Linked DNA regions of Homo sapiens: regions 1, 2, 4 and 5 are each reported to be linked to region 3. The links are microRNA targets in miRTarBase. Many come from high-throughput screens and were not tested one by one. Region 3 holds a microRNA gene; each other region holds the end of a gene's coding sequence.

The links. The annotated mature microRNA hsa-miR-4651 reads CGGGGUGGGUGAGGUCGGGC and lies in region 3 at 2,294-2,313, opposite strand. An mRNA with a match to its seed (bases 2 to 7 or 8) in the 3' UTR can be bound and repressed. Matches are read on the target gene's strand: a 7mer-m8 pairs with bases 2 to 8, a 7mer-A1 pairs with bases 2 to 7 and ends in A, and an 8mer does both.
Region 1: the mRNA of CHERP is a reported target of hsa-miR-4651. Seed matches in the 3' UTR shown: 7mer-A1 at 1,139-1,145.
Region 2: miRTarBase lists SLFN12 as a target of hsa-miR-4651. The part of its 3' UTR that is shown has no 7-base or 8-base seed match.
Region 4: the mRNA of USH1G is a reported target of hsa-miR-4651. Seed matches in the 3' UTR shown: 7mer-m8 at 3,789-3,795, 8mer at 3,682-3,689, 7mer-A1 at 2,705-2,711 and 7mer-m8 at 2,380-2,386.
Region 5: miRTarBase lists DCX as a target of hsa-miR-4651. Seed matches in the 3' UTR shown: 7mer-m8 at 3,575-3,581.

Annotation. Positions count from the first base shown.
Region 1 is chr19:16,514,791-16,519,891 of GRCh38, reverse strand. CHERP (calcium homeostasis endoplasmic reticulum protein) reads left to right here. Exons shown (of 17, transcript NM_006387.6): 16 at 177-271; 17 at 540-1,998. The coding sequence ends at 733. It overlaps C19orf44 (chromosome 19 open reading frame 44), which reads right to left. Exons shown (of 9, transcript NM_032207.4): 8 at 2,551-2,662. The coding sequence ends at 2,591. Among named protein-coding and RNA genes, the nearest start is that of C19orf44, 21 kb to the right of the region's middle.
Region 2 is chr17:35,407,160-35,412,260 of GRCh38, forward strand. It overlaps SLFN12 (schlafen family member 12), which reads right to left. Exons shown (of 4, transcript NM_018042.5): 4 at 3,763-4,768. The coding sequence ends at 4,179. It also overlaps the pseudogene LOC729839. Among named protein-coding and RNA genes, the nearest start is that of SLFN12, 23 kb to the right of the region's middle. RefSeq lists a silencer at 892-1,105.
Region 3 is chr7:75,912,418-75,917,518 of GRCh38, reverse strand. It overlaps MIR4651 (microRNA 4651), which reads right to left and starts at 2,322; the gene lies at 2,250-2,322. POR (cytochrome p450 oxidoreductase) reads right to left here and starts at 2,364. Exons shown (of 16, transcript NM_001395413.1): 1 at 2,340-2,364. LOC124901680 (a long non-coding RNA gene) reads right to left here and starts at 4,978. Exons shown (of 2, transcript XR_007060393.1): 1 at 4,780-4,978; 2 at 3,025-3,223. RefSeq lists a silencer at 2,157-2,646 and an enhancer at 2,907-2,956.
Region 4 is chr17:74,913,900-74,919,000 of GRCh38, forward strand. It overlaps USH1G (USH1 protein network component sans), which reads right to left. Exons shown (of 3, transcript NM_173477.5): 3 at 2,184-4,177. The coding sequence ends at 4,174. Among named protein-coding and RNA genes, the nearest start is that of USH1G, 6.8 kb to the right of the region's middle.
Region 5 is chrX:111,297,588-111,302,688 of GRCh38, reverse strand. It overlaps DCX (doublecortin), which reads left to right. Exons shown (of 7, transcript NM_001195553.2): 7 at 946-5,101. The coding sequence ends at 1,002. Among named protein-coding and RNA genes, the nearest start is that of CAPN6, 30 kb to the right of the region's middle.

The DNA of each region.
Region 1 (5,101 bases), not on the chromosome of region 3:
TGGAGCCCCCTTATCTAGCTGAGACAGGATAAACGGGTAGAGACGCAAAATCTGCATACGGTGTCACCTGGTGACAGTGAGCATGCACGCAAGCTGCGGCTGTGAGGTCCTCATCACTGTCATTCCAATAAATGTCTCAGTTACTTCTTAAAAAGAATAACCTGTCTCGATTTTAGTTCCTCTGCTGGTCTGGGTTCTAATTCGGCGCCTCCCATCCCTGACTCAAGGCTCGGAGAAGAGAACAAAGGCCATCAGATGCTGGTGAAGATGGGTAAGGCGAGGGAATGGGGAGGGCGCGGGATGGGTCCTCACGCGTGCTGGGCCCGGGAGTCACCAGCGCTTTCTCTTCCTCAGTGCATGTGGGGATGGATGGAGTCAGGCCGGTTCTGACTCCACCCAGACCCTCTAGACAGGGCCGGCCTGCGGGTTCTCTCTACCCATTTCCCATGTCTACACTGCCTGTCTGGACATTCAGCCCCCCACGTGCACCCCCATCTGCCTCCGCCTTGTTGTGGTTGTGACTGCGTCTCTGTTTCCAGGCTGGAGCGGCTCAGGCGGCCTCGGTGCGAAGGAGCAAGGGATCCAGGACCCCATCAAGGGCGGGGACGTCCGGGATAAGTGGGACCAGTATAAAGGCGTGGGCGTGGCTCTGGATGACCCCTATGAGAACTACCGCAGGAACAAGAGCTACTCCTTCATCGCCCGCATGAAGGCCAGGGACGAGTGTAAGTAGGCGCCCATGCCGGGAGCCGCGCCGGTGGCCAGCGGTGCCGGCTGTGGGACCTTCCTGGCTGACTGGCAGAGGAAGATTGCAGTGACAGCTCAGTTCTTACACCGTCTCCACTTGTGGAGAGCCACAGGAAGAGAAGGAAGACCAGCGCATGCCCAGTGGGAACGCCGTGCTCCATGGCGTGGAGGGCACGGGTGCCACCCACAAACCACACCAGGAGGCGCTGCAGCCACCAGGGCCCCAGGCTCGTTTTCCTTTATAGCGAAGCAAAAAACACAAGACCCTCCGCCCGAGTAAATTCTTCAGCCACGAAGGGATGGATGTGCATCTGCCCTAAGTCAGATTGAAGCCTCCTCCTAGGCTCCAGGAGGAGCATGTGCAGGAAGGGTTGGCCTGAGCCAGAGCCGGCACCCCAGCTCCTTCCTCCAGCTCCCCGCACCCACCGGCCCTGACCTGGCTTCCCCTCGGCTGTGTAGGGACAAAGCCGAAGCCCAGTGCCATGACTGCCCGCGGATTGAAAAACAGAAACACAAAACTTTGACTTGACTTGCGAAGTGAAGCAGGGTTTTCATTTTTACTCTCCTTGGTTTAGGTCTAGAAAGAAGAATACTGACCTGAGAGGAGGCCCAGTGAGATTCTGAAACCTAATTCTTCGAAGGCGTACTGGCCCTTAGTTCAGTTATTTTAGTTGTATAAGTTGATATTTTTTTTCTGGAATGTAGCCATTTGCTGTTATCTGGGAAACAAGATTCTAACAGGAAACCAGCCTAAGACACTTCAGGTTGAGCGCTGCCTCGGAGTCTGTGCCCGTCGCGTCCCCTGCTTGAGTTTTGCACTTGGAAGAACCCTGCACCGGCTGGCGTGTGCGACGGCCCAGTCCCATCCAGAGCATGGAGCCCGACCCCAGCCAGCGCCTTCCACTCCATCATTTCATTTCACACCCCCGAAGGGAGGGGAGGCCAGGAGGGGAGCTGCTCCTGCCAGAAGCTGGTGGGTGACCGTTGGGAATCGGCCACACCTGGTGTCCATGGGCAGCCTGGTGCAATTCCATTCATTTGTACAGAAACATTTTTGAAAAATTCTTTTCAATAAGATGCAAAATCTTCCAACTTTTCAACCCAACGTGATGAATATTTGATTTTGTTCTAGATTTCCTGTAGCTGTGAATTGTTAAAATGTATGATTCAGGATAAAACGTAAACACGTGCTGTTAGTAATTTCTTGTGGATTTCATTGTTTTGCCTTCAAATAAAGCCTTTTTTTAAAGACCTTTCTCCCGCACATGTGTAAGTCAGAAGTGTGCACGGGCTGAGTGAGGAGACACATGTCCTGGTTTGAGCTGTGCAGCCTGGGGTCAGAGGCCGTGTCCAGGGGCTCACATGGCGTCCCCAGCGTGCTGACCTGGTCCCATGTCCTTACCCTCGAGCAGGGCTTCTCCCATCCACCCTGTCTCCCTCTGGCTCACTGGGATGCCAGGACCTGCCTGGGTGGAGCTGCTCTGCAGAGGCTGGTGGCCCCTGTCCTGCTGTGAGTGGGGACAGCTCCACTGAAATTCTATTTCCACTGGCCTGTGGTGTCATAGAGCTGGGCATGCTGCTGGGAGAGCTGTCACTGAGCTGGGATTTGGCTCAGAGGAGTCTGGGGCCCTCACCGCAGCACCACCTGCCCCACCATGGAATGTCACACCTGGATGCTGACTGTGTGTGTGTGTGTCCATCACCCCAGTACCACCTGCCCCCACCACGGAACGTCACACTTGGACACTGATGAGCTCTATGTTTGTGTGCGTGTGTGTGCACTGAGTACACAGGACGGGATACCTTTTGTTAAGACGTCACGTCAAGCTCCACCTGCTGGCGCTCACAGCTCCTTGTTCACCTCCTCCAGGGCATCCTCCATGGTCAGTGGGGCAGGTCTGTGGCACCTAATGTACTGTCAGGCAGAGAACAGACCACGCCATCACCATCGTCACCTCAGTACACTCTGAGACAGGGTGCTGGAGGAGGGAGTGGAGCCAGCACCTGTCCCCAGCAGGCTCCTGTCAGTGACAGAAGTGTAAAACCACAGGATGTGTGTGACAGGTTGGCGCACGGGGCTGTGGGAACACAGGGTAGAGGGTCAGCCCTGCGAGGGGTGAGCCCTGACAGAGAAAGGGAGGGGTGCCTGTGAGTGCCCTTGGAGTGGCTGAGATCAGGGAGAAGCGCCTGGAGCAAGCAGCTGGGAGCTATGGTGGGCTGCAGCCAGGTGGCACAGTCAGATGGCTTCTGCCTGCATCGGATGGGCTGATGGACGCCCAACAGAGGCATGAGTTCAAAGCCCCCAGAGGGCTGCAATGAGCAAAGTTGACATTGTAGAGACCCGTGGGACTCACAACCTGCCCTCTTCAGCAGATAAACCACAAGGAAACGAGAGGCCTGGCATGCAGGGGACTCGGCACAGTTCCAAAGCAGCGTCCCGGGGCATGTGGGAGAAACGCCTAGCTCCAGGCCCACCCCGCCTGCTTGCGGGCCCAGCATCGCTTTCACAGGGCTTCCAGGGGATCCCCAACCGCTCAGCATTGAGAACCGGTCGCTGCTCTAGATTAAGAGGCTCAAAGGACATATCGGATAGTATGGACTTTGGATCCGAATTACCAAATCGGAACAAAACACACAACTTTAAATCAGACAAGCAGAAATCTCAACACTGGATATTCCTTGATACTTAGTAAATTTGGTTTGTGTATTATTGCATTATGGTTGTTTGTTTGAGACAGAGTCCCGCTTTCTCCCTCACTACAGCCTCAACCTCCCCAGCTCAAGTGATCCTCCCACCTCAGCCTCCCAGAGAGCTGGGACTACGGGCACACACCACTATGCTAAACTTAAACTAGTTTTCTTGTATTTTTTAATAGAGATGGAGTCTTGCTATGTTGCCCAGGCTGGTCATGAACTCCTGGGCTCAAGCGACCCACCCTGCCTCAGCTTCCCAAAGTGCTGGGATTACAGGAATGAACCACCACACCTGGCTTTAACATCACTTTTTAGAAATAAACACTGAAAAATTTGTTATGTAAAATGTTTAAAGCAGGGGGCGGTGGCTCACGCCTATAATCCCAGCACTTTGGGAGGCCGAGGCAGGTGGATCACCTGTGGTCGGGAGTTCAAGACCAGCCTGACCAACATGGAGAAACCCTGTCTCTACTAAAGATATGAAAAATTAGCTGGGCATGGTGGTTCGCACCTGTAATCACAGCTACTCAGGAAGGTGAGGTAAGAGAATCACTTGAACCCAGGAGGCGGAGGTTGCAGTGAGCTGAGATTGCACCATTGCACCCCAGCCTGGGCAACAAGAGTGAAACTCAGTCTCAAAAGAAAAAAAAAAGTTTATGAATAGATCACCATAAAGGACTGCATATAGTATAATGCCATTTCTATAAAGAAATACGTGGCCAGGCATGGTGGCTCGCACCTGTAATCCCAAAAATTAGCTGGGCATGGTGGCAGGCACCTGTAATCCCAGCTACTTGAGAGGCTGAGGTAGAAGAATCGCTTGATCCCAGGAAGCGAAGGCTGCAGTGAGCTGAGATCACACCACTGCATTCCAGCCTGGGCAACAAGAGCAAAACTCCGTCAAAAAAAAATTTTAAAAAAAAGAAATACGCATACTATGGTTCATACAAGAGTCTGAAGGAGTATATATATCAGCTTGGTAATAGTTACCTCTGAAATTAAGGAGAACTTGCAGGTTACACATCTCTGCAACAAGATTTTCAGAAAACAGCCACGTAATTTTTGGTAATCAGATTTTAAAAAGTTTTTTTGAGACGGAGTCTTGCTCGTCACCCGAGCTGGAGTGCAGTGGCACGATCTCAGCTCACTACAACCTCCACCTCCCAGGTTCAAGCGACTCTCCTGCCTCAGCCTCCTGAGTAGCTGGGACTACAGGCGCCCGTCACCATCCTGGCTAATTTTTGTATTTTTAGTAGAGATGGGGCTTCACCACGTTGGCCGGGCTGGTCTCAAACGCCTGACCTCAAGTGATCCACCCATCACAGCCTCCCAAAGCACCAGGTGTGAGCCACGGCACCTGGCTGGTAATCAGATAAAAATTCTTAGAGGGTAAAAAAAGAGGTGAGGGTGATTGCTGAGGAGAACAGCTGGGCCGCCTCTGGCCCCATCTCGGGGATGTCTCAGGAGGCTCAGGGAAAGGGACAGGACCCCTCCCATGGGAGAAAACAGTGCCACGAACAGTAGGTCCCTTTAGTCTGAGGTCACACAGCCCAGGCGGGGCTGGCTGCAAGGTGCAGGAGCTCAGCACCCCACCCTGTACCAGCTTTTGCCACAGGGTGGCAGGAAATGAGGCTCCCTCCACAGGGACAGGTGATGGCCC
Region 2 (5,101 bases), not on the chromosome of region 3:
GCACACTCCAGTGTAGAAAGACATCTATTAATTGGCTGTATCCGAATTACATACTGACTAGAAATGCTCGTTTTTAACTGCACCTGTTTGGGGGTGTCAGAACAAGGAATTCTTACAGAAAATGTCCTTAGCCTGGCTCCGTGTACCATCAATGACGATGATTGTAGAAGGATAAACAGGAGAATCTAATATAAATTCTTCCAGATTAGCAGCTTCTTATATTAGCCCCTGGATATAACATTAATGTACCAAACTTCCGGCAAACAGTTGAAAGTTCAGGATCTCTTTCTTCACTGAAGCGACGACCAGTCTTCACTTTGCGCTTGTCCTGGGGGAGGCATGCTGCTGGTAGAGGAACTGTCCGCAACATTTTGTCTTCCTCTGCTGGATGCTGAATTATGCACAAGTAGGTAGAGATATGCAAAGGGTGCGCTGGGAGAAATGGACAAAAACACACTTTCTGAGGCCGGCTTGCAGCGGCTGCACGCAGGCCTCAGCTCCTCGGCTCCACCTGCAGCTCCCACAGCCCGCCCGCACTAGCGTCGTCCGCCTCTGTTCCCAGGGCAGCCGTCGCCAGCACTGCGCCGCCCTCCCGCTGCTCCTTGTAGTTTGGCGTCTGAGACCTTGAGGCCCCAGGCGGTCGCGCGACGGGGTCGCGCCTCTTTCTGCGACTCCATGGCGGACACTCTGGTCAGGCCTTCGATATAATATTTCAATATAGACTTAAGGAATAGATTGTATGTGTACATATAGATATGGATATAACATAAGTAACTAAATTAAAACAAATGTCCATAATTTGGCCCAATTAGAAATCCAGAATGTATATACCAAAGAATTTATATTACAAAAAGATAAAAGGACATTGATTAGATTTTTTGTCTCTACAACATAAGGTCTAAATTAACTTTAGCATTTGCTAAAATATACCAGCTGACATACTTCATGGACTCAATCAATACTGGGGCTCCAATTATACTTGGAGTGGGCCGTGGTGGCTTACACCTGTAATCCAAGCACTTTGGGAAGCCGAGGCGAGTGGATCACCTGAGGTCAGGAGTTCAAAACCAGCCTGGCCAACATGGTGAAACCCTGTCTCTACTAAAAATACAAAAATTAGCCAGGCATGGTGGCAGGTGCCTGTAATCCCAGCTACTCGGGAGGCTGAGTCAGGAGAATCACTTGAACCCGGGAAGCGGAGGTTGCCGTGAGCCAAGATAGCATCATTGCACTCCAGCCCGGGCAACAAGAGCGAAACTCCTTCTCAAAAAAATACATATTATACTTGGGGTTCTCATTAAATTTAAATATTGTATGCCCTCTAATCTTAAAAAGGTAACTAAAGTTAAAAAATATTTTGGATAACTATCCCTCACTTTACTGCTTTGGTTGAATTTCCCATAGTTTTGTACCCATTGCTTTAAAGTATCTCTTATTGGACACAGACTCTCTGACACAACAAATAATAAACTAAAGTTAAAATTTTGGCACTTAAAAAATGGCTTGATAAAATGGGACCCTATAAATCCCTCTTTAAAATAGTTAATATGGCACAATTTAAGTTAGAATAGGCCCTTCAAGGATTAAGACTTGTTATATAGAACCTCATTATGAAAGGGGATAATTATCCCCACTGCTTCTCATTAAACAGCTCAATTTTGCCTATTCGAGCCCTTTGGGAGGCCAAGATGGGAGGACTGCTTAACCCCAGGAGTTGAGACCGGCCTGAGCAACGTAGTGATACCCTATCTCTACAAAAATTTTAAAAATTAGCCAGGTGAGTTGGTGGTGTCTGTAGTCCTAGCTACTCAGGAGGCTTAGGTGAGAGAATCTTTTGAGCCCATGTGTTCAGTGATGCAGTAAGCTATGATCACACCACTGCAATCCAGCCCAGCCAACAGAGCAAGACCTTGTCCCTAAAAAAAAAAATAAAATAATAAAAAGTAATGGAGATTATTGCCTTCTCCTGGAGGTAGTTGTTTCCTATTAGTCAACTCCTTGACCCACTCGCTCCCCAGTGCCCTCCCCTACCACTCCCTGAAGCTTCCCCCCGCCGACCTCTTGTCTTACATCTCTGACCATGACCACCCCTTCCCCTTGGTTATACACACATACACGAATGTACACATACATTATTAATGTATCAGCCACACTGTTCAACAATATGACTGCCAGACCTGCCACTTTGATATATATATAATTCAGACTTTTAATCCACTTTACAACTCCACCAAGATTATACTAAAGACCCCCCAAAATTTCAGATCTACTTTCTTGACTAATGATGCACACATGAAAAACTTACTGATGGGCCAGATTGCAAGGACTCCTCGTATATCCACTTGTGTTCTTCCTTCTTACTCTCATAGTAAACATTTTCTAGGCTGTTTAGGTGAGCTTATGCCTCACTCTCTAAATACGTCCACTATTACTACCCCAGGTTTCTTGCAATGATGCCAAATAGGCACGGGGCCAATGACTCTTATTGTGTTTTCTTATATTCTGTATTTGTCTATTTGGCATCCAGGCACCTGGAGGCTTCATCAAAGTTCACATTTTCTTTTGCTGATGTTTCAATTTATCCTACAAAACTATGTTCCATGTAGATCTGGCCCATCTTGAGGCTGCTGTTTCTGCATTCATCCTCCCATGGTCACATTTCTTGGCCAACAGAACCACAGAAACTGGTCTGCCATGAGTTAACGTTTAGTCCAAATCATTTTTCCACTTTGGCTCTGCTTCAAATGGGGCTGGGCTGGTGATACTGAAGACAATCAATGCACCTATGAATTCCAGACAATGGGCTCTTGTCATTTTCCCAATCTTTCCTCATCGCAATGTTCCACAGCTGCAGTTGTGCCAAGGCCTCTGAGTCCCAGTGGAGCTCCTTCAGTGCACAGTTCACACAATGGTGAACTGGCTTGGAGATGCCAAGAGGAGTTCTGGTGCACACAGTGTGTGATGATGATGGCCTTGCCTGTGCCCAGGTCACCCATACCGGCAGCTGGTACAGGCTGACACACTGTGCTGGCCACAGTTCAGGGCTGGAGAGAGACTCCAGGAGTGCAAGTATGCTCTCGTTTTAGGTTCTTCATTTTGATTCATCTCTTCATTGGCTGGATTTCATTGTAACATAGTTTTCAAGAAGGTAGAAGAGAACTACGTTCCGTTCCCTATATCCTTTGATAAGAATGTCTGCCTATTTCCTTTATAGTCAAACATCATCTCGTTTGGCAAAATATGTGTTAGTAAAACTTTTCTCAGAATACTGAATGCATTGATCGACTTCCTCTGGCATTGGACACAGTGGTGGAGAAGGCTGAGGCCCTGATGGGTAATTTAGGCTCTATTCTCTGTTCCAAGATCCCACTGAAGGTCTTAGGCATGAATTCAGAACACCCAGCCAAGGGTGTATCCCACTCTGCTGAGCTTCATCTTGGTCCCTTAGCTCATCTTAGATGAGTGGGAAATGCCAGACCCTGGTGCTCCTTCCTCTTGTTGATGAAAACTCTCGTTGTCTAAAAGAGTTTCTACTTATACCTTGGCTGCTTTCCTTCAAATCTTAGTTAGAGAGGATTTTCCATATTTTGTCATCTCACGCTTCTTTATTCAGAACTGCTTGTAGAAAAATAAAGTAACCATTCTTGTGAGTTCTTTAAAGGTGCTAGCTGACCAGTTAGGAAATCCACAACCCTTCCAAGTAAATAGTGTGAAAGTAGCTCAAGAAGATCCAGAGAATTCCTGGAGTTTTGTTTTGAGAAAATGAGTTTTGCCTTCTTATTCATTCCCACTGTGGAAATTCTGAGTTTCATCAAGGATAATCTTTTGTAAGTTATAATTGTTTTCTAGGTATATGCTGGGAGATTTTCACTGTTGTCATTAAGAATAAAAGTGTTGCAATTTTCCCAGTTCAAGCATGGAAGAAAATTTATTCAGGAACTACAGACAGAGTAAATAATACTGTGCACAGACGAGTTAACAAATTAATTTTCCTAATATCCCTCAAACAATATCTGTGAAGATTATTTAGGGAGAAGTGAAAATAGACAAAACCCAATTATCCAACATCACATTAAGTTGCTTAACTTGCAAAGTTTTCAAAGAAATATTTTCACAGAATTAGAGAATGTTATCAAATATATAATGAAAAATATCTCAGTAGCCCAGTCCATTTTCCATCAGGTGAGCCTTCGACAAGATTTAAACATCTTTTTATCATTCTTCTGAAAGCAATCTATACCGATTATCTGGTATAGATTTTCTGCAAAGGAAAACTGGTCTCTCAGAGACTTGAGTCTCTTTAAGGCTTTAAAAAGGGCTTTCAGCAAGTATTTCCTTCTTGTAAAATAGTAGGATTCAGGGTAAATTACTTGCGACCTTAAATCATACTGGCAGCTTGTCATGCCTTCAGGGCTCAAGTAGAAGATCTTTGTCATGACACACACTTTTTTAGTGTAACCACCAATTTTTGCCAGCTTCTGCTTTAAGGTTAGGGCAGTTTGTGTAGAATAGCCTTTAAACTCCTCATCCTGTACCATGTGGAAGGTGTATAGGACTGGAGGACTGTCCTGGGAAATCAGAAGAGCATCACAGAGGACTTTGTGGTTCTCTTGCAAGCCCAGATCCACAGACCAGCTCCTAGAGAAGATCAGTGAGCCCTTTCTGACAGAGTCCATTTCTTCACATATTAATTGCTTAAGTCCTTCATGTTGTAAGAACAGTTTTCTGCAAAGGTTTTCTGGAGTATACGTTATCCTTCCTGATAGCCCTGAATAAGGAAATAATAATAATAAATTATAAAACACTAGGAAGTTCCCATTTAAGCCATGGCAAAGTAGCTTGTAAAAAACCAATCTTCCCATCAAAAACACTGTAAAAGTTGTATAAAATATATTCAAACAATAATTTAAAGAACTAGAAAGCACCAATAAAAGCAGTATTTGAAGTGCCACAGTCTTTGATAGAGGTGAAACACAGAAAGTAGCTTCACATTCACCCCTGCTTTTTCCCTAAGTAGATTTTCTATATCATGGCATGGGTAAATAGAACCCAAGGAGAAATCATCAGTCTTATTAGGCTGAGGAAAAGAAGTAAGAAGAGC
Region 3 (5,101 bases):
GCTTGACCTCTGTTTCTCTGGCTCCTCCCTAAAGCACAAGGACATCGAAGCTCTTGTAGGGGCGGCCAGCCTCTCTGGAACCATGAAAGGTCCTATAACTTCAAGAGCTTCCATCAGAAAAAAAAAAAAAAAAAAGAAGAAGAAATAAGAAAGCCAGGAACGGTGGCTCACACCTGTAATCTCAGCACTTTAGGAGGTCAAAGCAGGAGGACCACTTGAACCCCAGAATTCGAGACCAGCCTGGGCAACATGGCAAACCAAATCTCTAAAAAACATTTAAAAAATTAGCTGGGTGTGGTGGTGCGTGCCTGTACTCCCAACTACTTGGGAGGCTGAGGAGGGAGGATTGCTTGAATCCTGGAGGTTGAGGCTGCAGTGAGCTATGATTGCGCCACTGCACTCCAGCCTGCACGACAGAGTGAGACCTGTCTCACAAAAAAAAAAAAGTTACTTAAAAGCTAAATTATTTTTAACTTGAAATGTTCCATGGACTTCACGAGTAAATGTTCTGGATTTGCCAAGCAGTTTTGATTTCAATTGGCCTGTCTCCTAATCATACACAGACTTACCTAACACAGATTCTGATTTTCAAGGGGTTAAGGGTGGATCAACCCAGAGTTAACCAACAGCAGGTCCTAAAATTCAGGTATGTCTGGCAGCAAACATCCTCTGTGGCATTTATAAACTCCTACTACCCAGGACGATCCACACCTGATTTACATTGGCTGCGGTCAATGCTGCTGTTTTCAGGAATATCCCTGGGTTGTTTCATTTCAAATCTACCTATTATTTCTTCAAGTGCTAGACCTGAAGAATTTTGGAAAATTAAGATCACTCCTAAGTTTCCACACCACCACGCAACTGGCAGCTAGCATCCCATTCTCTGAAATGCGGATGTTGTACAAATACTTTTTATAATAAGCTATCTGCTCAGCGAAAGTTTCCAACATTAGATGGCATGAAGGTCATAAGTAGCTCAAAAACCACTCTCTTAAAAGGAAAATAAGAACTCCTAAAACAGCCCTCCTCCCAAAAAAAAGGAAGTGGACCTTTCTGGGTTCCCTGGTTTACTAACTGGGCCTTTGGAGCTGTTCTCCTGACCAAGCCAACCCCATAACCACTCAAAAGGGATTTCCGTAGGTAGAACTTGCAAATGGTTAATGAATCAATGCCTTCTCCATAAAGCAAGACCCAAGGAATTACAGCAGTGAACAACGGTGGGGATACTGGATCCCCCAGAGGGTTCCATAAACGTTCTGCTTACAAGGAGGATTAAAGTTCTCGATGCCACTCTCTGGGACCCTGTCTTGATCCTCAGAATCTCAACCCTGTGGGGAGAGCAGGGTGGCTGTCTTACTACCAGACCCACTGATCAGAAAACGGAGGCTCCAGGAGGTATCTTGCTTGCCAAGAATCAAACCAGGGCCACCCAGTCCAGTCCTGTCTCCTTTTGTGCTGGCATCATTCTCCAGCTTGGCCAAGCTCAGAGGCAAGGCAAGGCAAGGCTGCAGCTTTAAGGGTTTAAGAGAGGAGACAGCCACTTTCATTGAAACAGCCCCAAACTCCTTATTAGTGGTCACCAGTTTACACAAGGGTAACTCGTTTTGAAAAACAATACGCAGAAAGTCGAAGTCAATCAAGCTCACTGAAACCTCTACTCTCCTCCCCCTGGCGCCCAAGAGACCTTGAACTCTTACCCAATTGCTCCCCCGATCTAAGGGTGTCCCGGCTCCCCCAGGAGATCCGGGTACCTGTGTTGTGGGGGCCGCCGAGACACCTGACTGCGAGGGGCACTGCCCTCAGGGATGCAGGCCGGGCTGGGGGGCTCCCGTGATCCATCGACTCAGCCCACCTGATGCTGCAGGGTTAGATTCGGGTCCCATGAGCATGCATCGAGCGCCTCTCACGTTAGGTACCCCCAGAATTCGCTGCCTCCCGAGGCCCATTCATCGTACAGATGGGGAAACTGAGGCTCGGAGAGTTAAAGTGGCTTAGCCCGTGGGGGGCGGCGGCGCGGGGACTGGACCCCGAGCCCTGAGATACCGAGCCCTAACCCTCAGCCGAGGGCCTGCCGGGCTCTCTCGGCCCAAGCTGTGGAAAAGTCGACCCTCAGGCCGCCGCGGGAGATCAGCTCTAGGGGAAGGGCGACGCGGAGGAGGGCCGGGGTGGGAGCCATGCCTTCCGCCCGAGCGTCGGGCCAGACGCGCAGTGCCCAGGCCCGAGGGCCCACCCCGACGCAGAGAGCCAGGCGGCCGCGGTGAACTGAGGCGCCCGGCAAACCCCGAGTCTTGGGGCCCGACCTCACCCACCCCGCCGTCGCCGCGAAAGATAGCACTCACCGCTGGCAGCCCGGCTGCTCTCTGCGGGCACCTGGGCAGGGCTCAGGCCCACACCACTGAGGCGCTACCACCGCCTTCGCCGGCCGCGGGGGTGGGGGCGTGGCCATTGGGCCGCCGCCCCGCCCACTCGAGCCGCGCGTGCATTCCCGGAGCCCCGCGCTTCCCCCTGCAAATTTGCGCTCTTGGTACGGCCCGGCCCGGCCACGCCCCCTCGCGGCTCGGCTGGGTCGCCCGGCAGAGAAATGAAAGTGCGTGGTTCCGGGGGTGGCGGAGTCGCCTGGAGACGGCGGCTGCGGCTTCTACAGCTCGGACCCTGCAGGTCACCGGGCCGGCTGCCCACCTTCCCGGGGATCACTGCAGAACTGTGGCTGTGCGCCCGCCGGTCTAGCCTCCTCCTTCGGGCCGCCGCTTGCTTGTGATCGCCACATTGTCTCCTCCACGGCCCTGTTTCCTCACCTGAAATTGGCGAGGCTTCAGGCCCAAGTCGTCTCCCTGGGTTCCCTCCATCCAGCCTGACGGCGGAGGGCGCGCGTTTGTTTTTAGAGACAGGGTCTCGTTCTGTCGCCCAGGCTGGATTGCAGTGGTGCAGTCACAGCTCACTGCAGCCTTCAACTCCTGTGCTCAGGCGATTCTCCCACTTCAGCCTCCCAGTAGCTGGGACTACAGGCGCGCCACCACACCTAGCTAATTTTATTTTATTTTATTTGCAGAGATGCGGTCTCGCTATGATGCCCAGGTTGGTCTCGAACTGGTCTCAAGTGATCCTCCCTCCTCGGCCTCTCAAAGCGCTGCGATTACAGGCGTGAGGTCCCACACGCTGCCTAGAGCTCGCTTTTGAAGGCCGGCCTGTTGGGGGTGGGAAGTGACCAAGCAGGAGGCAAGCCCTGGATGGAAGAGGAGTGGGGGGATACAGAGAGCTTCTGGGGTTTGAAAAGTCTGGCAGCCTTGGTTGGGGAGTGAAGCCCACCTCTGCCTCCTGCTATGGTTTCTACTTTACAGGGTCATGAAGATTAAGTGGTATAACCTTTGTTCCTAAAGGATTTAGAGCACGGCATTACTAAGTGTTCTCATCGCCATTGTTATTATTACTACTACTACTATTATTACTAGCTGTGCTGTGAATTCCTTTTGCAACACTGTGCAACTCACTTCTCTCAGAGCCCCTTCTCCATCTTTTAAAAATAGCCCAGGCACGGTGGCTCACGCCTGTAATCCCAGAACTTTGGTAGGCTGAGGTGGGCGGATCACCTGAGGTCAGGAGTTCGAGACCAGCCTGACCAACATGGCAAAACCCCGTCTCTACTAAAAATACAAAAATTAGCTGGGCATGGTGGCGGGTGCCTGTAATCCCACCTACTGGGGAGACTGAGGCAGGAGACCCACTTGAACCCCGGAGGCAGAGGTTGCAGTGAGCCCAGTTCACACCACTGCACTCCAGTGTGGCCGACAGAGTGACACTCCGTCTCACAAAAAAAAAAAAGTTAATTTATAAAATAATACATAAATATAACATTTATATATTATATAAATGTTATATTTGTTATATTTATATATTATATAAATAATATATATTATATAATAACATATATGTTACTTATTTTTTGAAACAGGGTCTCCCTTTGTCGCTGAGGCTGGGATGCAGCCTCGACCTCCTGGGCTCAGGTGATCCTCCTGCCTCAGCCTCCCTAGTAGCTGGAATTACAGGCATGCGCCACCACAACTGGCTAATTTTTGTATTTTTATTTTTCATTTTAAAGAAAGTTGATTGAAATTTTTTTGTAGAGATGGTGTTTTGCCATGTTTCCCAGGCTGGTCTCAAACTCCAGACCTCAAGCAGTCCTCCCACCTTGGCCTCCCAAAGTGCTGAGATTACAGGTGTGAGCACTGCACCTAGCCTAATTTTTAAATTTTTTGTAGAGACAGAGTCTCGCTATGTTGCCCAACCTGGTCTTGAACTCCTGGCCTCAAGGGATCCCTTGCCTCGGCCTCCCAAAGTGCAGGAATTACAGATGTGAGCCACCATTCCCATCCACTCTTCATCTTTAAAATATTGTGAAAATAGCAAAATCCTATATAAAGAGATTATTACCATGGCCCAGGTGCCAGGTTTCCTATGTCCAGGAACCAGTCCCTCCAACAGGTTGGATGAATGCAGTAGCCCTCAGGGTGGGGCACAATACCTGTCCAAAGAAGGGACTGAACTCCACACTCACCCAGAGAGAGAGCTGTGGAGAAATTCACCCAGATATCTGATACTCTGTGCCATCTTTTCAACACCCTGTTGGACATCTCCCCAGGATGTCCCAGTGAGGCTTCAAATTTGGACTTTGACTCCATGCCCCCTGCTTTTTTTGAAACCAGAACTCCTAAAACACTGAGTCTTCTCTGTCTGCTAATAATATAGCATCACTAAGGAAACATCAGGAAACAGGCATTTTACCTCTTTGGCCTTTTCCCATTGAACCAATAACTGGGTCCTATGGATTCTATCTCCAGAACCTCCTCTTGTCATCTTTTCTGCTGTCCCTGTTCCAGTTGGGGCCACGTGGGTTCACCGTTCACCTGGATGATCTCAGCAGCTTCCTGACTTTTTTGGGGGGGATGGAGTCTCACTGTGTCACCCAGGCTGCAGTGCAGGGGCACCATCTCAGCTCACTGCAACCTCTGCCTCCTGAGTTCAAGCGATTCTCCTGCCTCAGCTGCCTGAGTAGCTGGGATTACAGACTTGTGCCACCACACCCGGCTAATTTTTGTATTTCTAG
Region 4 (5,101 bases), not on the chromosome of region 3:
CAGACCAATCAGCCCTCTGTAAAACAGCCCAATCAGCTCTCTGTGAAATGGACCAATCAGCAGGATGTGGGTGGGGCCAGATAAAGGAATAAAAGCAGGCTGTCCAAGCAGCACTGGTAACCCGCTGGGGTCCCCTTCCACACTGTGGAAGCTTTGTTCTTTCACTATTTGCAATAAATCTTGCTGCTTCTCACTCTTTGGGTCTGCACCGCCTTTATGAGCTGTAACACTCACTGCGAAGGTCTGCAGCTTCACTCCTGAGGCCAGCGAGACCATGAACCCACCGGGAGGAATGAACGACTCTGGACGGGAGGAAAAAACAACTCCAGATGCACCACCTTAAGAGCTGTAACACTCACCGCGAAGGTCTGCAGCTTCACTCCTGAAGCCAGCGAGACCACGAACCCACCAGAAGGAAGAAACTCCAAACACATCCGAACATCAGAAGGAACAAACTCCGGACATGCTGCCTTTAAGAATTGTAACACTTACCGTGAGGGTCTGCAGCTTCGTTCTTTAAGTCAGTGAGACCAAGAACCCACCAATTTCGCATACACTGGGACCACAAGTGCACACCACCAACCAGGTTAATTTTTAAATGTTTTGTAGAGATAGGGTCTTGCCACGTTGCCCAGGCTGGTCTGGAACTTCTGGGTTCAAACAATCCACTCACCTCTACCTCCCAAAGTGCTAAAACGTCCCTTTTTTTTTTTTTTTTTTTTTTTGAGACGGAGTCTCGCTCTGTCGCCCAGGCTGGAGTGCAGTGGCGCAATCTCGGCTCACTGCAAGCTCTGCCTCCCGGGTTCACACCATTCTCCTGCCTCAGCCTCCCAAGTAGCTGGGACTACAGGCGCCCACCACCACGTCAGGCTAATTTTTTGTATTTTTAGTAGAGACAGAGTTTCACCATGTTAGCCAGGATGGTTTCGATCTCCTGACCTCGTAAATGTCCCTATTCTTGATCTAAATCTTTAGGGAAATGAGTCATGAAAGTTGAGCCCCTACCATGTAATATTTTCTCCTCTTTGCTTGTGTTGAACATCCCCACAGGCTCCCTGGAGCAGCTCCTGCTCCTGGCACCCCAGGCTTCTGCCCTGGAGCCACACTGACCCATGGAGCCCCTCATCCTGCTGCCTCTGGTTCATCTCTGCTGGGATGCCAAAGTGCCCCTCGGCTCTCTGTCTTGTCATTCCTCACCCGTGTCCTCTTCTGGACCATCGCGGCAAGGACCAGTGAGTCTTTCCTGAGGTGGGTGCAGTGACCAGGATGGCCAAAGAAGCCGCAGGGAGGTGCGCCCCCAGGGCATGGCTGGTGGAATCCTGTTGTGTTAGCGCCCTTGGCAGCCTGAGTGTGAGGAGAGCATGGCAGCAGCCAGAGACCCGCGTTCTGGGTCTGACTCTTCCCCTCTGTGGGCCTCAGTTTTTCCATCTGTAAAGTGGAGGGAGGTGGCTTGGAACCCCTGGATGGTTGCTAGGCAACCTTCCTGCACCAACATCCTGGGGACCTTTCTGATTGATGCTGAGGGAAGGGAACTGTCTTGAACTCCCTTTGGCAGAAGAAACTGGCCCAGCAGCTTAGGCAATGGAGCAAGATGACTCCAGGGCCCTTCCTCAGACCTGACTGAGAAAACAGAGCCCACTAGGCACCAGCTTATGGAGGAGACTCACCCCTGGGAGAAAGCAGGGCTTCAAATCAGGCTGCCCACGAGCTGCCTGCGGTGATGAGGGACATGGAGACCCCTCTGGGCCTCTGGAGGGCCCTCATGGAGACCCCTCCAGAGGCCCAGAGCCCAGGTGACAGGCAGCAGCCTCCTGGAGTATGTTTCTGCCCATCTCTGGAAAAACCCAGGTAGGCACTGGTGGGAAGAGAGAACATGCATCCTCCTGCCCTCCGTAGCTGCAGGCCCTGGCAACAAGCCTGGAGGCTCAGCCATCCTCCTTGCTCAGGGGGACTCTCCTGCCCTAGTTCTCAGCCCTGCCTCTCCACCAGCTCCTAATTCTGGGCTGAGCTAGGAGAGCAGGTAAAGGCCTAGGGATCCCTGCAAAGATGCACAGCATGGGGTCTCGAAGACACTCCAGAGAATAGGACCCAGTCCTCACAAGCGCAGAGCAGACCCCCTCCCGCCCCCACCCCCACCCTTCCACTCTTCACTCTATCCCCAAAGCATTAAAGGACAAGACAGGTACGATACTGATAGAGAACATTCTCTACAAAAGTGGCAATGAGCCTGCAGGAGGGATTCGGGGTACAGTGGTGGGAGCACAGAGCCTGCTCCACCCCAGCACCAGAAGAACCAGGAGGGGCTGCGGCAGTAAACGGACGAGGAACAGGAGAGAAGGGGCAGCACCTGGGGCTCTGGGAGAAACAAGTCGGCACTTGGGGGTGGCCCCAGGCTCAGGCCCAGAGAACAGGGAGAAGAGCTGTGGTGGGCTCCAGATGGCGGTGGCAGGCAGCCAAGCCCTCAGTGTCCTGCAGTAGGACAGGGACCATCTCCTCCATGCCCCCTACTCTGGGCACATGTGTGGGAATGGGAACCCCCAGACAGACCAGAAAGAGGCCTTTGAGGGCTCTCTTTCCCCTGCCCCAGCCATGGGGGCCCCAGGAGATGCTGGGGGCTGAGGCCATGCTCCCAGCAGGAGCTGCTTCCCAAGCTGAGGTCAGGGATGGGGGGCCATGGCTGAGAAAGGAGGAGAGCACCTCTGCATGGGGTGCAAAGGGGCGCACACGTGTCAGCGGGCTCATCAGGGACTCTCCCACATCTGTGACCTCAGTCTGGCTGGAGAGCTTTGGGGGCATACGTCAGAGGACACATGCTGTGACCACCCTCTGAGCTGGCCTTTCCCCTGGTCTCACCACCATCAGAGGGCTGGGACACAGGTGAGCTCTCTTACCCCCGATCCACGCAGAATCACGCAACAGCCCAGTCCCTACCAGACCTGGAGGGAAACCTACCAAACACCACCCAACGTGAGTGTGCACACACGCACACATGCACACACACACACATGCATGCACACACACACATGCACACACATGCATGCACACACACAAACACGCACGCGTTCACGTGCACACACACGCACACATGTATGCAAGAACACACACACCCAAGCACACACCCGTGCTCACACATACCACATACTTACACACACATGCATGCACACACGCATACATGCACACAAACATGCACACGCACACAGCCCTGGTGACCTGGGGACAATCTGCAGTTTAGAGGATCCACTTTCTCCAGTGTCCACATCGCAGGACTTACCCACCCCAGGCCTGACACCCAGCCACACCCTGTTCTGCCTGTCCCAGGCCTGGGAGACTGAGGAGGTTGGCGGACACCTTTCTCTAGCCCAGCGCATGCCTGCCAGGCCTGGGGGCTATAATACTGCAGCCCATTGGTCTAGCACCTTGCATCTAGCGCCCTGGCCCTCTGGGGTCCCTGGGGGGCCAGGCTGCACAACGAAAAAGGGGGAGGTTGGAGGAAGACAGGCCAGGCTCCACCCCTGGATGAGCTGGGAAGGGCGTCAGTACCCCCACCCCACCCCAACCCGGCTTTCCAGCTCCGGGCCTTGACCACTAGGTGAAGGAGGGGGAGCTGGCTATGCTTGGGATGGGGTACAGACTGAAAGTTGGGGCATTTGGCTGAAGAGTCTGGCTGAGGAACTTCCCCTCTGGGGTGGACGGGAGGAGGGGAGGCAGCCCAAACTCTTCCCTTCACAACAATGCAGGAAGTGAGCAAGTCTCTGGCCTGAGCACAAGAGAACAAGACCATCAGGGGAGGGGTGGGAGAGGCCACGGCGCCCGGGACAGGTGCACCCTCCCGCATCCACCTCCCACACTCTCATCCAGTTCCGATGCCCCTGCCCTCCCTCTGGGGCAGGCCTCCCCCAAGTCTACATGTCCTTTACGGCTGCTCAGAATGGGTGGCTCAGGGCCTTCAAGACCCCTCAGAACTGGAGTTCCGGAACATTCTCTTGCCCCTCTGGTGCCTCCAGGCCACACCCTCAGCTTCAAGGTGCAGACAGACTTTCAAAGGAGTCGCCCCAACTGGTCCTTGCTCCTGGGGAAGGGGGCTGCAGGGCTGGCAACTGTGAGGACCTCGAGACCCCACCATAGGTTGTGGCAACTTGCAATTCATTTTGGTCTGGGGAGAGGAGCCCCCGGTTATCTGTGGAGGAAGAGACAGAAAGAAACAGATCTCACATGAGGCCCTCCAGAGGCATCATTTTCACCCAGGGCAGCCATCTGGACAACTTAGCCTCCCCATCTCTCGGCAGGCCAATTGTCAGGGATGGGGGACGCCAGCCTATGGGTGACCTCCCCATCCCCAAAACTCTGAACCAGCCTGCCTCCCCACACCCATCCCTGCCCCAGCCATTCAGGATAACGGCCATAGATACCTAAGAGGAAATGAGGACAAAGTTTGTTGGGCCTGTGGGATGCCATTGGGGAGGGGCCAGGGCAGGGGCTGGCCACAGCATGACCATTGTGGTGGCAGCCTTGGGCAACTATGACGGCCTTTGGAACATGAACTCTGCCTCCAGGGCTGCTGCTGACCCTCTTGGGAGCATTTGCCCACGTTCCTGATTGCAAAGTTCAGGAACAGTAGGTAAAACATCTCCCTAAGGCCAGGCGCGGTGGCTCACGCCTGTAATCCCAGCACTTTGGGAGGCCAGAGTGGGCAGATCACTTGAGGTCAGGAGTTCGAGACCAGCCTGGCCAACATGGCAAAACCCCATCTCTACTAAAAATACAGAAATTAGCTGGGCATGGTGGTGCACTCCTGTAATCCCAGCTACTCAGGAGGCTGAGGCAGGAGAATCGCTTGAACCCGGGAGGTGGAGGTTACAGTGATTGTGCCACTGCACTCCAGCCTGGATGACAAGAGGGAAACTGTCTCAAAAAAAAAAAAAAAAAAATCTGCCTGAGGTCTTGGGCAATTGAGAGGCCCTGCTGACTGCACGCCCTGCATCCCATGGCAGCCACCTTGACCCCAGGCTCTAAAGCCATGCAGACCAGGGATCAAGCCTAGCTCCATGCTGAGCAGCAGCAGGACCTTGAGGTGAGCTATTCTAACTGTCTGAGCCTCCAC
Region 5 (5,101 bases), not on the chromosome of region 3:
AATTATAACCACAATGAGATGTCACTACAAATCCACAAGAATGGCTAAAATGAAAAATAATAAAAACATCAAATACTGGAGAGAATGTGGAGAAACCAAACTACTAATACTTTGCTGGCAGGAGGTGAGACTGTAAATGGTATAGCCACACTGGAAAGCAATATGGCATTCCTTACAAAACTGAAAATGGAATTACCATATGACTCAGCAATTTTACTCCTGGGTGTCTGTCCCAGAGAAATGAAAATGTATGATCACACAAAAACTTGTACAGTACAGGAGCGTTTATGGCAGCTTTATTTGCAATAGCCCAAAACTTGAATCATTCAACGTGTGCTTCAACAGGTGAATGGCTAAACAAACTGTGGTGCATCTACACCAGCAATATAAAGAAGCAAACTATTGATACATATAATGGCTTACATGAGTCTCCGGGGAATTATGCTGAATGAAAATGGCCAATCCCAAATGGTTATATACTGTATGGTTTCATTCATATAACATTGTTGAAATTCCAAAATTACAGAGACAGGAAACAGATTATTTGTTGCCAGGGCTCAGGGAAGAGGGGAGGGTTGGATGGAGCTCTAATGGGGTAGCACAAGGGAGCCTTGTGTTGAAGGTACAGTTCTGTATCTTGACTGTGGCGATGGTCACACAAATATACACACATGATAAAATTGCATAGGAATATACACACACACACATACACACCCCACACACAAATGATCACATGTTAAACTGCAAGATGGTACCATTAGGGAAAATTGAATGAAGGGTACATTGGTACAAGGGTACCTCCCTGTACATTTTTTCAACTTCCTGTGAATCTATAATTATTATGTTGTAAAAATTAAAGTATTAATAAAAAAAACTAAAGCAGACATTCCAGAGCTCAAGATATCAAGAAAAGGAAAATTAACTTTGTCTCTTCTCTTCTTATAGGACCTGTACCTGCCTCTGTCCTTGGATGACTCGGACTCGCTTGGTGATTCCATGTAAAGGAGGGGAGAGTGCTCAGAGTCCAGAGTACAAATCCAAGCCTATCATTGTAGTAGGGTACTTCTGCTCAAGTGTCCAACAGGGCTATTGGTGCTTTCAAGTTTTTATTTTGTTGTTGTTGTTATTTTGAAAAACACATTGTAATATGTTGGGTTTATTTTCCTGTGATTTCTCCTCTGGGCCACTGATCCACAGTTACCAATTATGAGAGATAGATTGATAACCATCCTTTGGGGCAGCATTCCAGGGATGCAAAATGTGCTAGTCCATGACCTTTCAATGGAAAGCTTAGGTGCCTGCGTTATATTTGCCCTGTCTAATTTTGCCCATACAGTCTTCCTTCTGTAGAGGGCTGTTTACATATACAGCACTTAAAATGTTTGTGTGGGAAAAAAAAAACTCATTGGCAGATCCAAGAATGACAAACACAAGTGCCCCTTTTCTCTGGATCTCAAGAATGGTGGAGGACCCTGGAAGGACAGCAAGGCAGCTCCCCAGCCTCACTCTTCACTCCTGATTGAGGCCCGGGTTTGTTGTCCAGCACCAATTCTGGCTGTCAATGGGGAGAAATAAACCAACAACTTATAATTGTGACACCAGATGCTTAGGATCCTGGTGCTGGGTTAGCTAAGAGAATAGACAGAATTGGAAAATACTGCAGACATTTCCGAAGAGTTTATAAAGCACAGTGAATTCCTGGTCAATCTCTCCACTGAGGCAATTTGGAATCAATAAGCAATTGATAATAGTTTGGAGTAAGGGACTTCATATACCTGATTCCTCTAGAAGGCTGTCTAACATACCACATGATTACATGAACTGTATGGTATCCATCTATCTCTGTTCTATTGAATGCCTTGTTAACAGCCAACACTGAAAACACTGTGAGAATTTGTTTTCAGGTCTGACACCTTTCAGTCTCTTTTTATAGCAAGAAATCAATATCCTTTTTATAAAAATTCATGTCTGTATTTCAGGAGCAAACTCTTCAGGCTCCTTTTTTATAAACTGGTGATTTTTCTTTTGTCTAAAAAACACATGAAGAAAATTTACCAAAAAAAAAAAAAAAAGCAGAAGAATAATGTAGTTTAGAAATTATGCTGTCACTGCCAAACAGTAACCTCCAGGAGAAAACAAGATGAATAGCAGAGGCCAATTCAATAGAATCAGTTTTTTGATAGCTTTTTAACAGTTATGCTTGCATTAATAATTTCAATGTGGACCAGACATTCTAATTATATTTTAAATGAAATGTTACAGCATATTTTAAGCAACTCTTTTTATCTATAATCCTAATATTTCATACTGAAGACACAGAAATCTTTCACTTGTCTTTAACATTAGAAAGGATTTCTCTTTACTAAGGACTGATCATTTGAAATAGTTTTCAGTCTTTTGAGATACAGGTTTATAACACTGCTTTTTTTTTTCTGTAATCATAGCCCATAATGGCAAAGACAACTAAATTTAAGTGAAGGTCATGCATGCCAATTCTGTGTTTGCTTTTAGCAGATATGAAGATTTCCTTATTTCTTTGTAATTGTGCAGATATTTTGAAAGGCACAGCATTCGAAGCCAAGCTGCTGTTTGGCTACTGAATGGCTTGCAGTTGTTCCTCCACTCTAAATGGAATGAGCTTGCTGTGTGTGTGTGTGGTGGTGGTGGGAGGGGGTGGTGCATGTGTGTGTGTGTGTGTGCATCTGCAGCTGCTTCAAAATTAGGAAATACTACAGGACACCCCTGTAATGGATTGGTGGCAACTGGGTGGCACTGCTGATGTGCACTGTGTAGGGGGGAACCCAGTGGTGGTGGGGTAGCTCAGATGCCCCTAGACAAGCTTCAGATGTCTGTAGCTACCAGAAACATTTTCGGTTCAGGAAAAGTGAGATGATGGTAGTACTGGTTTCTGGTGAAATTGAAGAACCCCAAATGATGAGGATCTCTTTTTGCCCCCTCTCCTTTTTTTGTAGACCCATTCAAAACCATTAATAAGCCCATTTTACTAAGCCCCTATTTCTTTCTAGAAGCTCAGGGTTTTCTTAGTGCCTCCCAGAACATTTTGTAGTTAATTGGGAAAAAGTGATACTTGGATTAGGGGGTGTGGGCATAAAGAATGGTGGGAGGCCTGATTTTAAACTTCAGGCCAGAACCCCCAATGACTCCACCCATAGTCTCACTTTAGGTCTCATTTAGTCCATCACCTTTATTTTAAGTTGAGGAAGTGGAGGCTGGTAAAGAGCAGGACCAGAGGAAGAATCCAGATTTCCTTATGCTTGGGCCTCACACTAGCTCTCTGAGTATTTCCTTGATTGCGGTATATGTACTACTAGAAAATACCAAATGGATATATTTTCTTTAGGATAACCTTTGAACCAACAATCTTCAATAACAATAGTACATCTTCCATCTTACTTTTAATCGAGTATAAGGAAATGTTTCTTTATGGCCATTTTGGAGGGAGCAGGGGATGAGGCTTGGCATAGTCCAAAATTTAAGTCTCCAATAATTAATTGCATTTTAAATTGGCCCACTTTCAAGGCAATTTTTTTTGTGTGTCTGTAACTGAGCTCCTCCACCCCTGTCATTCACTTCCAATTTTACCCAATCCAATTTTAGCACTCAAGTTCCATTGTGTTAATTTCTGCACGGTCAACAAACATCAAGTCAGCAAGCATTTGCCACCACTCCCTATACTTCTCCCTCCTTCTTACACACACACACACACACACACACACAATCCATCTCTTGCTTGTTCCTACCTCCTGATTTTTCTTCCCTACAGAAATAGAAATAGGGACAAAGAAGGGGAAAATGTATATATTGGGGCTGGGCTGAACAACTAACTTCATAAGTAGTATTAACTAGGGGTAAATTGAGAGAAAAGCTCCTTTTCTCTTCACTGTTTTGGAAAGGATAGCCATTAGCATGACTGCTTTGTGTCCTTATGGACTTTAGTATTAGCCTAGATTGAATTATAGCGTTTTCTAGCTGGAAGGAACCTTAAGATCACATCATCTACTCCTCTACTCCAAATTTCTCATTCTTCAGGCCAGGAAACCGAGACACAGAGGTAAAGTAATTTCCCCAAGGTCACACAGCTGGCTGGGGCAGGATTGGGTTTACAACCCACATCTCCTGGCTCTTATTCCAGGGCCTTTTCCCACTAAGTAGTATTGCCTTCCATTAGGCTCCTGAGAGTTATTTCTCAGGGTCATGTTGCATCTTGGAGCCACATGCTGCTGCCCTGATCTCAGTGGGAAATCCACCCAGCAACCTAATACAGCCCCTTTTCCCTGCATTCACCTGGTTCCCATCCACATGGGTTGCAGATGTCCTTGAAGAGAGTGAGGCATTGAGGGCCAATAGGAGCAATGGGGTCCCTGGCCTTGTCCATCTGATTCAGGAGATCACTGCTCCATCGTGAGGAGCCCTCTGAATAGCCCCCCACTGAATGCTTGCCTTGCCCAAATGGAATGGAGGAAGATTGATTTTCTCCATCAGTTCACCTTGTGTCATCTCATAATGGTTGGTCTTTCCAGGCTGAGGGAAATGTTTCTTGTTTCCAGAGTAGAAAAAGAAAGAGTGGAACAATAGCTTTGTTCATCCTAACTTTCTGAGATGGCTTTTCAACATTTTAAAAAAACTAGTGTGGCTACCATTCACTGGCAATGATTTCTTTTAGAATATGGGAGTAAGATGAGCTAGAGAAAATAACCTGGTCTCACTGTGGTTGCCCTCATCCACAATGTCCCCAAAGCCATCCTGCTCTGATGAGGACAATTTCCAGGTATAAGCAAGGGGCTTTGTGACAAAAATGTACCCTGGCTGATGTTAAACATTGGCTCCTGTGTTTGCACCAAAATAGCAAGCTGTGTGCTCTATACACTCTTCCCATCGTCTTGTGTACACTGCTCCTGTGGCCTTCCACAGCAGAAACCAGGGCAAAAGGGTCCAAACACATGGTTTTCCTTGCTGCAAGGCTCTTCCTGGGAACTAAGGGGGTATTTATTAGTTCAGTTCTAAGAGACCTCCTTCTGGGCTTACCCCACTCCTCAGGTACTTCTCTCTCCTTCCTCCTTCTCCTCCACAGTCACAAGTA